Linked DNA regions of Homo sapiens: region 1 is linked to region 2. Evidence: fine-mapped expression QTL. Tissue or cell type: whole blood. Region 2 holds a variant in brackets; the other region holds the start of a gene. All regions are shown on one strand. Distances are between the middles of the regions.

Region 1 (5,274 bases), 89 kb before region 2:
AGAGCCGGTGGGGATCCCACCGCGGCTCAGTGTCTAGGGCCGGTCCCGGCAGCCTTCTCTCCCGCCCCGCCCCGCAGGTCCTCGCGCACCCCCCGCGCCCCCGCAGGCCCAGCACCCATGGCTGCGGCCGCCGCGTAGCCCTCCCGGTGGCGCTCGGAGCTCCGCCTCCCGAGGGGCCCCGAGCTCATTGGCAGGCCGCCCCCTGCACGCGCTAATTGGCCGGCTCAACGCCCGCGCTGATTGGCTCCGGCCGCCAGGGGGCGGGTACCGCTTCGCTCCGCCCCTCGGGGCCCTAGCGTCTGAGTTGCTTTCCTGGTTCGGGTCTGCCCTCAGATCTCAAATCGAATTCGCTCTGCGTATCGAATAGGGGGAGGTAAAAGAGACTGAACACAGTTCAAACCTAGACATAATGCTAAGGCCGCAAAAGCCGAAGGAAACCCGGGCTACCGCTGCACCTTGCTGCATGCCTCTTTGGGACTCCGTTTCTCCTTTAAAAGGAGGCGGGGTCGGGGAGGGGCGACGGACGGTTGCCCTGGAAATTTTGGACATTCCCAAAGCGCCAATTTTCATGGTGGAGATCCACCAGTGTCCCCTTCGCTTCTCCAAACTCTGGTTGCTGGAAGGTCCGCCCACTACGGAACCTGCATCCTAGAGTTAAGGAACACCTGAATAAAGAGATTCCGAGGTAGTTCAGATCTTCAACCATAAGGATGCTTTTTGTTTCTTTTTACTTTGTGAATCATGTTTAAAAGCAATAATACACATGGCTAAACATTCAAACAACCGTGAAGTACACAGAAAAGTGAGTCTCTCCCACCCACTGGTTCCCCTGCTCTTGGGTAACCGTTGCATGTCTTTCAGGAAAACATGATCTCGCCCAAAGAGCCTTCCAAAGCAGTTCAAGAAACCTTTAAATCTCAGGCCACACTGAGCTGAGTATTTTACATGCATCGCTTAATCGGAGGTATACAAGGCAGTGTAGTATGTATGTGCGTACTTTTTACAGATGAAAAATACGAGCCCAGGGATCCTACATTTCTGAGCCTGGGTGTGTTTCTTTGGAGGCCAGATCCTGTTCTTTTTTGCTCCATGACTTTGTCTTGCCCCACTCTATATGAATTACAGGACAAACCATTAACTCTCCACTCTTATCCATTTCTCCAACTGCTGAAGGTGAAACAAACCTTTACTCATTCATGCACTCTACCAATATTTGTTAAACACCTGCTATGTGCCAAACCTTGTGCTAGGCACTGGGGAGAACATTGGCCTCTGGCCCAGTTCTTTCTTGAGCAGAGTTAATGGGACACAGTGGACCTTTAATAAGGTTGATATGTAGAAGTGACTGAATGAATGAATGGATGGTAAACTTGAGAAGTCTTGCCCACACTGAACTTACCACTTCTAATCCAGGGTAGAAGTTAGATATATTCTGGCTCATGCAGAAAGTTGGGTGTTTCCTTTTTCATTTTAACGTGGTACTTTGGGAAATAGCATGGATTCTGGCTGAAGACCAGAGGAATCCTCTGGAAGTACAAAATGTTCAGTTTGGTGCATTGTTGCATCCAGCCTTTTCCAACACACACACACACACACACACACACACACACACACACACACACACACACACACACTTAATTGAAGTGGAAAAAGAAAAAGGCTGTCAGGACAAATAAGGTTGTTATCTAGTGCCGTTTTGGTTTATAAAGGGAATGAAAAATAAGGGTGCGTGCGTGGTTATGAACCCTGGTTTTGCCACTTGTTAACTGCATGATCTTGGGTAAGTCAACCTCTCAGTGACTCCGTTTCCCTGATGATAAAATAGGTTCGATAATAGTACCCAATTCATAGGATGGTTGTGAAAATTAAATACCTTAATATGTAAAGCCCTTAGGATAGTGGCTTTGCATAGTATACACCATCCAATACTATTCTTATTCTTATTATAAATCTAGTAATTGTTACTACAGTGGTGACTTTCCTTGACCCATCTACGCCGATTCCCTCTCCGGGACTGCGCCCAAAGCTTCCAATTCCCGCCCACCCGGAGGATTCTGCGGTCGCTCCTCCTCTCGCCCCGCCTTTTGTGGATGGCCGTAGGCCCGCGGTTGCACGATGCATGCCGGGCCTTGTAGTCCGTTCGCGGAGTCCTGCCGCCGAAGGCCACGCGGGTGAACTGCATTTCCCAGCGCCCCACGCGGCGGCGGCCGTAAAGCGCGGCGGTCGAACGGCCGGTTCCGGCTGAATGTCAGTGCTGGGCTGTGGGCCGGGGAGGAAGGCGGCTCGCGGTTCCTCCACCGCCTCCGCCGCCGCATCCTCCGCTTGTGCTACCGCCGCGGGCGCTGGGCCGCTCTGCTGGTCCGGCATGAGACCGTGAGACGAGAGACGGGTCGGGGCCGCCGACATGTTTGGCCGCTCGCGGAGCTGGGTGGGCGGGGGCCATGGCAAGACTTCCCGCAACATCCACTCCTTGGACCACCTCAAGTGAGTGTGGGGGGCGTAGCGGGAGGCCTCGGGGCTGGACAGGGGGACGGGGCGCCGAGCTCCGGGTCGGGGCTCTAGGAGGCGTGAGAGCGGCGGCGAAGGGCGCCCGGGGAAGCCCGTGTGGTGGTTAAGAGCGAGGGCTCGGGAGTCAGGGCGCCTGGGTTCGAACCCTGACCCCGTCGCTCTTGGCTGTGTGACCTTGGACAAGTCGCTTAATTTCTCAGAGTCTCCGTATCCCCACCTGTAAAGCGAGAGGATGCGATTTCAGTTTATGGACACAGACTTTGTTCTTGACGGTGTCCACCAAGTTTCCTGGCGGGGTACTTCTTAAACTGAACAGCTTAGAGGGTCAAAGGCCTGGGTCCTGGAGTCGGGCAGATCTGGGTCCGAATCTATCTGTGTGAATGTAGGCCTCAGGTTCCCCACTTGTAAAAAGAGTAGAGTGACAGCACCTGCTTCCTGCTATTGTGTTGAGAGTTGGTTGGATAAGAGAATGAACGTTAAGCTCAGAACACGTACAATTGCTCATTAAACGGCATTAATTATTATAAAAGAACAGATTATTTTCCGAGGGGAGTCTAAGCTGGGGGCATGCACGCTGAGACCCAGGATTTTGGGGCGATTGGGGAGGATGATGAAAAATAGAGACCTCTGAGGAGGGAATGACTCTACAGCTCTGGGGGAGGACAGGTGGCAGATAGGGTCTTGGGACCAGGAGTGCAGAAATTAAGAGGCTGGCTTTGCAGCCACACCTGCGTTCAAATCCTGAAACCACCATTTACTGGCTGTGTGACCTTGGGCAAATTACTTCACCTCTCTGAGCCTCCAGATTCCCATTTGCAAATGGGGATCGTGAACATTGTAATGGAAATGGAAGGTGACTGACCCAGTAGGTACATAGTAGGTGGCCAGTAGTGGTAGCTGTGTTTATTATCAGCTCAGCGAGGCCTTCCCAGACCACCCTACCTAACGTGCTCCCCCCATCCCAGTTCCTATCCATCACATCTTTCTCTTGCTTTCATTGAGTGCTTCTCCACTCTCTGCGATTATTCTTTATTTTTTATTTATACTTATTTTCTGTCTTCTGTTAAACTGGCACTTCACGAGGGCACAGACTGCTTGGTTTGTTCACAGTTGTATTCCCAGCATCTAGGACTGCTCTCTGCTTACTTAAAGAGTGGAAAAATGAATGATTGAATTGGGGAGAGATGAAGAGCATGCAGGCCAGGACCCAGGATTTGGGGGCAGGTGTGGAGGATGATGAAAAATAGAGATCTGTATGAAGGGAAAGGCTTTAGGGAGGGAAATGGCGGGGATGCTGAAGAGGGGAGTAGACAAATCTTCAGTGTCAAGAAATAGGCAGGTTTCCAGAAGGAGATCCTGAGACTACTAATGGGAAAGGAGGAAGATAGGGTTAGGGATATGGTGGGAAGTAGTGGAAGGGAGACGGGGCTGTGGAAAGGATTGGTGGGAGGGAATTAGATAGGGACTTCTCATGTGTCCCCGGGAGTGGGGTAGGGGTAGTGGCAGGGCCACAGTTCTCAGCTGTGACCTTTCTAGCATGGAGCAGCATTTAGTAAACGTTTGTGAGTCTTGAAGAGTGGGGAGCAGGAGGGTTCACTATGTGGTGAGGGGCACTTTTAGAGCAGGAGGTGGTGAGAGAAGACAAGGGGAGGAAAGAGGCCCAGGACAAGTCTGGGGTGGGTAGGGAGGTGGGGATCTTAGATGGGAGGGCAGCTGGCCGGGAAAGGGAGTGGTTGAAGGATTTCAGGAATTTATCGAGTGGGCGGAGGTGGCTGAGGAGGGGAGGGGAGTTATCCAGAGGAGGTTGGGCCTCCTGCCGGCATCCAGGTACCTCCAGGTTCTCACCTAACTCTGCTTAACTCTAGCCCTTTTAAATTACCTTAATTTATTAATTTATCGAATGCATTATTCTGTACCAGGTATTTGCTAAGGACTGCCTGTGTGTTAATTCCCTTAGTCCTCACAAGTCTGAGTTACAGGAACCATTATTGTTTCCATTTTACGGAAGTGGAAACTAAGGTTCAGGGGGCTTCAGTGACTTGCCCCCAGGTGTCAGCAGCTGAAGGGTACCAGAGGCAGGATTTGACTCCCGAGCTTGTGCTCATTATACTGTCTTTCTGAATAAAACTTCCCAATAAGTCTGTTTGAGAACACTTTTGACTTGGCTGAGTCTCATCGCCAATGGGGCATCTTTGCCAGCCAGCAGGGAATGGTAAACGGTCTCTGGTTCCTTTGCAGTATCCTGGGAACTGCCTGGGTTCATTGTTTAGATCACATGTCTATCGGATGCTTCTTTGGAAACCCAAGTTGCCTGCCCTGAATCAGGCAGATCAGCTTAATCCATATTACAGCCCCAAGAACCTGAGATTTGTGTATTGGTGGGGGGGTTAGAAGATCCCCCAGTGACTTGGAAAAGAGTTTTGTAAACAGCCAGTGCCCACCCTGGGGCTTGTGCCACTCTGCATTTGGCTCTGTTGGTAAACATCTTGGGTCTTGGGTACAGAACAGCTCGTTCCCTGAGGGAGTTTGCAGGCTGGTGGGGGAGACAGCTGTAGAGCCAGTGACTGTACAGTGTGATAAGTGCTGAGATCGCCATGGACCCAGGGTTCTGTGGGAACCCTTATTGGGAGCTTTCTGGAGGAGACAACACCAGCGCGGGTTCTCCAAGAATGAACAGAAGCCACCATTGGCGGGCAGCAGGGGCGGGAGGCGGAGCACTGTGACCAGGACCCTGCGGGTTTTGTGGCATGTCCAGGTGGGGGCTGA
Region 2 (5,550 bases):
CAGAGACGTCATGGCTTACTGGGTGTGCTGCCATGCACCTTCATCCATCTTATGCGCTGGAGAGACCACTCACCTGTGTTCCCGCCTGGGCATCCTACCTCTTTTTCTTGGGAATTTCTTCTTGGAAGAGTAGAACTGTATATTCAAGGAAATTGAATTCCTTCTCCCATTTTCTGCTAATGCTATGCATGTATTGATTCATTCATTCTTCCAACAAATATTTTGGAAGCCCCTGTTAGATGCCAGGCACTGGGATCAGTATTGGGGATGCAGTGGTGAAGCAAACAAATGCTTTCATGGAATCTGGATTCTCTTAGAGGAGACAGACAGTAAACTAGTAACCAAGTAAAATAATCCCATGTAGCGAGAAGTGCAACAGTGAAAATAAAACTAGGTAATGCGGTGGGGCAGGCTGAGGGTAGAGGGTACTACATCCGCCTGAGCAATCAGGAGAGGCCTCTTGGAGGCTTAAGTGATCAGGAGGAATAGCTTGCAGTTTCTGATGAATTTCCTCATGTAATTAGTTATTCAGCAAATGCATGTGGAGCACCGGCCGTGTGCCAGGCAGTGTGCTCAACATGGGGACTACAAACTCCAGGCAGACCAACCCAGGCCCTTGCCCAAGAAAGCATCAGTCATTCTTGGACAGAAAAGTCCTACGAGGAGGCTGTCAGCACAATAGAGGGTCACTTGCCTGGTGGTGAGCATGGACTCTGCCCGCAGGAGTGAGGACCCGTTTCCTGAGGACACCCGGGCTATGGTAGAGGACAGAGCAAGAAGGGGCATGAGAGCCTGTGGCATATCCATCAGATCACTGCCCGTTCCCTAGGGTGAGTGGCAGCATGTCCGAGGCAGCGGGTGCCCCAAGAGGCAGGCATCTGGAGCCAGTCTGCAGGGGGTGGCACAGGCAGCGACTGAACTGTGTTCCTATGAGCCGTGTGGGGCTGCTGGGGGGCAGTTGGTCAGTTAGTGAGCTGACCCACTCTGCACCTCTCAGAATGGGTTTGCAGTAATTCAGCCAGCGGGTGGGAGGGATGAGAGGTGAAACTGAGAGGCTTTCTTATCATTCAGCAGATACTTGCTGAGCGCTTGCCAGGGCAAGGCCCCGTCATAGGCACTCAAACAAGCCCAGATGAGTCTCACTGAAGTGAACAAGAAGATTAATTGTGACTGTGACAAATGGTAGAAGGAAATGAACAGGGTGGAGTGATGAGGAAGCCTAGTGGTTGTGCTGCAGGGGTTACTAGGTGCTAGTCAGGGTGGTCGGGGAGGGCTCCTCTGAGGAAGGACCAGCAGAGCCACAGCCCAGAGAGTGAGAAGGAGCCAGCTCTGCAAAGACCTGGGGCAAGAGTCCTCCAGGTGAAGGGAGCAGCATGTACAGAGGCCCCGGGGTGGGAAGGAGCAGAAAGTGGGCCAAGGTGAGGCTGGCCAGGCGGGCAGGGGCCAGGTCATGAAGGGCCTTGAAGGCCCTGAAGAGGAATTGCCATTTTTTCTCCAAGTGCAATGGGAAACCCCTACCGAATTTTTAAGTAGGACAGTGATGTGGTCAGATGGAAGTTTTTAAAAGAAACGTTGGCTACCAGACAGAAAGTAGATGACTGGGGGTGGGGATGAGTTGCAGGAGGGAACACCGAGAGACTTGCTAAGAAGCTGTTGCAGTCATCCAGGCGAGATAATGTGGATTGGATTAGGCTGCTGGCTGGGGAGTAGAGGAAACTGGAAGGACTTGTGATTATTTCAGCGCTAGAGCCAGGACGTGCTGATGGATTGAATGTAGGGGTCGAGTGAAAGGGACGAGTCAGATGACTCCTGTGATTTGGCTTGAGCAATGGTGGGGGTGCATTTACTAGGATGAGGAGACAAGGAGAGTCACTAGGCTAGGGGTGAGGGGTTCTGGTTGATTTGAAAGGAGGGGGCATGAAGGGAGGAGCCTGGGTAAGGCTCAGGTTCCTGACTCCTTTCCCTGTGTGACCAATAGTGCCATTTCCAGAACTAACAAGCATGGGCCTTGGAGTAGGTTTGGAGAAGAAACGGAAAAGTTCAAGTCCGGTGCCCTGAGGCCCAGGTGCCTGGGGAAGCTGCCTCGTGGGGGAGCTGCCACCTGGTTTATGCTCAGTCCTGGCCTGTGAGCACAGAGTCTGCATTTGGTGGGGCTTTGCTGGTGGAGGTTGGTTGAGTGATTGGTTTTTGGTTATGCAGCAGCTGATCAGGCTGCACTTGACCTTCAGCCTCACTTTTCCAGATCCTTACCCCCCAAATCAGGTCCCAAGTGACCTGGTCTCTTTCTCATAGATTTTTTCCTCATAGTCAATTTTAACATAAAAGCCACGTTCATAAAAACCAAATGTGAGCTCAGGCCTTCCAGTAATCATAATAGATTAGATGCTGCACCGAAATGAATATCCCACAGTGGAAAGGGTTGACCGGTTGGCGGAAGGCGCTTGTTGTGATTCAGTTGGGCCACATAATGAATTCTGGTTTGTTTCTGTAATAGAAAATGCAGCCTT[C/T]GCTCTTCTATCAAGTCCGCTGAGTCCTGGGCCAGAGGTGGAGGGATGGGGGTGAGTTTTACAGCTTTTGTATCTTGAAGGTTCCCCAGTTCAGTGACCAACCTTCTACTCCTGCCACTCCATTTGTCATTGTTTACCCAGGAAGAAGGAGTCTTGGGCTCTTTGTGTTTTGTGTTTTGTTTTGCTGAGAAGTTAATGGAACATGGATGAGCGATATGGAAAAGGTTGAAAGGTAATAGGCTAAAGGGAAGCTTTTGCCATGCGGAGAACTTGCACAACGTCAGTTTGGATCTTGGCTGACACATAACCAGAATTAGAAGTACATTGGAAATCGGCCCAACATCTGGTTAGCTTTCGAAATCTTTGGTCTATAGTCTTCCAAAGCTGGTAATACTTGTGTGACTGCAGCCAAGGAGACTTTGTGTGGTCAACAGACGTTTTTAAAAAGTTTGAACTGTTTACCTGGTGTTCTCGTGGTGTCTTTATCCAGATCTGTCTAATTATTCTTATGCATCTTTGGTCTGGGTCTTTTACCTCTCTACCCTAAATGGGGGCTACTACTAAGGGGGAAGAATCCAGATATCAGAACTGAGAGGGAAGCTTAGTAAGAGTTACTGACACTGTGGGGCCACACCCTTCCCTTCTGTTTTGGATTCTTTGAATGAGTTAGTTGAGAGTTCCGCCCTCCACCCCTGTCCACGGGTGGACAGGGGACACCCGTTCTGAGTCGGTGGGCAGCTCAGGCTCTGACCCCTAAGGCAGGGCTGTGGGCGGGGCAGGGAACATGTGGTCTGCTGGAAGCCAGAATGAGCTAGTGCTCCCGTGAAGTGCAGCAGGGTTTCTTTGGAATTTGTCTGTCACAAAGCACTTAAGAGTTGAAGCAAATAGGATAATATATTATCCACAGTGTTTATTTCTGTCAGAGGGAAATGACTGGCAAAGAAGCTATTGGGTTTGCAGCAAAACCTGCCTTTCTGTGACCAAAAACCACGGGGTATGCATGCGTGTGTGAATGAGTGTCTGTGTGTGTATGAGTGTGTGTGTGTGTTTGTGTGTATGTCCTTGCACACAGGAGCCGTCTTACCTTTCACATGCATGCCCCTGTTACAGGGTGACATTGACCTTAGCCACTCAGAACCATCAGCCACCAGGTTGTTTCAGGCAGGAGGCTTAAACCTAAATCTAATGTTCGCCACAAATTAAATGCCATCCTAAGTACAGTGATGGTCATGCAATGATTGTTATAGAAAACAAAAATGAGAATAAGTTGCTTTTTCACTTGCCTTTGATAGTACCACCTTAAAATAACCAACTGCTGACAGTGTCGTATTTCTTTCTAGCATGTTTTCTGTGTGGGTGATGGTTGGGCTTTTTTGCACAGCTGTCATATGGTGGCTTCTATTTTACGTATGTTTCCCCTTCATTTTGAGATTTGTCTAATCTTCTGCCCGAAATTTGATCAAAACTACTTAACTTTTTAAAAAATTAATTCAGCAAAAATGTATGGACTGTTGTGTTTGTGCCAAGAACACCACTAGATCACATGACATACATAGCTTGGGAAGGTGGAGGGAAAGAGCGTTAACCAGCGGGGATCATGGTACACGGCAGAGAGGAGGGAGGTAAGAGCCACATGGCTGCATTCAGGGCTGGGCTTTCCACTCTCCACATGACCCCAGGCAAGCTCATGTCTTTTTTGAGCCTCAGCTTCCTCGTCTATAAAATGGAAATACTATTAGCCACTTCATGGAATGTCATGAGGATGAAATGAAGCATTCTACGTCATATGCCTGGCTGATGGTCACCATTTCTTCAGAGCTTACCATGCGAAGGCAATCTTGTCATCTTAGCAGAATCCTCTCCTCCTTCCTTCCAAAGACACTCTGTCCTTCCCCAGAGAGACTGGTGATTTTGTTGTTGTTTGTTTGTTTTGACTGAGTATTTTGGTAAATGATAAGGCCTCCTTCAAAACACTGGATAGTTGGAGTCAAAGAGAGGATTTTAAAGGCCATGGTGGGAAAAAGAGCTGGGAGAGAGAATGGGGCCCCTGGCCCAGAAGGAGCTTTGGGGAAAGAAGGGAGATGTTCAGAGGGGTTTCTGTTATATAGTTTTGCCGTGTGCTGTGTGGAATCACCTCTGCTCTCTGCCTCCCAGGGCTGGTGGTAAAATCTACCTCACATGGACTGCATGGCACTAGCAGGTCAGTTTGGGGTAAAGGGCCGGAAGCATGGAGACCACTTGGAACAGTCAGGGGAATGGAACCACCCCAGTCAGCCAGGGCACAACCAGATTATGTTACGGCCCGCTAGCTGCCTCTCCTGGGCCCCTCCACTGCATCACCCTCCAGGATCCTGGCACGAAGCCTTGCCTGTCCCTTCCCCCATCCTCCACCTCATCACCCCCTCCCCGGCTCTCTCCCACCCAGACCTCTCTGGGTCTGCTCCACTCCCTGCAGTCCCACCTTGGTTTGGCAAGTCCTGGCCCTCCCTGTCCAGTTCAAGGCAAACTCCTGTTCATCCTTTAGGATCCAACCTGAGCAGCTCGCCCCCTGAGAGGGGCCCCCAGCAGCTCAGCATGCCTCTTTTGGGCTGTCTGTAGCTTGATTTAGCTCTTGTTAGGTTTTATCCTTGTGTTCTTTTGTTCTAATTTTCCTTTTTTTTTTTTTTTTTTTTTTGAGACAAGAGTCTCGCTCTGTCACCCAGGCTGGACTGCAGTGGCGCAGTCTCAGCCCACTGCAACCTCCGCCTCCTGGGTTCAAGCAATTCTCATTTCTGAGCCTCTCAAGTAGCTGGTACTACAGGCATGTGCACTACACCCAGCTAATTTTTGTATTTTTAGTAGAGACGGGGTTTCACCACATTGGCCAGGCTGATCTCAAACTCCTGACCTCAGGCGATCTGCCCACCTTGGCCTCCCAAAGTGCTGGTATTAAAAACATGAGCCACCGTGCCCGGCCTAACTTTCCTTTTATAACACGAATGATAAGGAAACACATGAAGTCATGCTCAAACTAAAAATTCTCATCCATGCATTAAGCAGTGCT

Evidence for each region. PIP is the estimated chance that this variant, and not a neighbour inherited with it, causes the effect.
Region 1: it holds the start of CLEC16A, and the variant in region 2 is fine-mapped to the expression of CLEC16A in whole blood (INTERVAL, PIP 0.90).

The regions. Positions count from the first base shown.
Region 1 is chr16:10,942,314-10,947,587 of GRCh38, forward strand. It overlaps CLEC16A (C-type lectin domain containing 16A), which reads left to right and starts at 2,251. Exons shown (of 24, transcript NM_015226.3): 1 at 2,251-2,484. The coding sequence starts at 2,405. It overlaps DEXI (Dexi homolog), which reads right to left and starts at 155. Exons shown (of 2, transcript NM_014015.4): 1 at 1-155. It also overlaps a transcript of CIITA not described here. RefSeq lists a silencer at 1-294 and enhancers at 1,864-2,043, 2,264-2,323.
Region 2 is chr16:11,031,386-11,036,935 of GRCh38, forward strand. All of the region lies in intron 13 of CLEC16A (C-type lectin domain containing 16A), which reads left to right. Among named protein-coding and RNA genes, the nearest start is that of CLEC16A, 90 kb to the left of the region's middle. The variant C/T (reference allele first, on the strand shown) is at 2,508.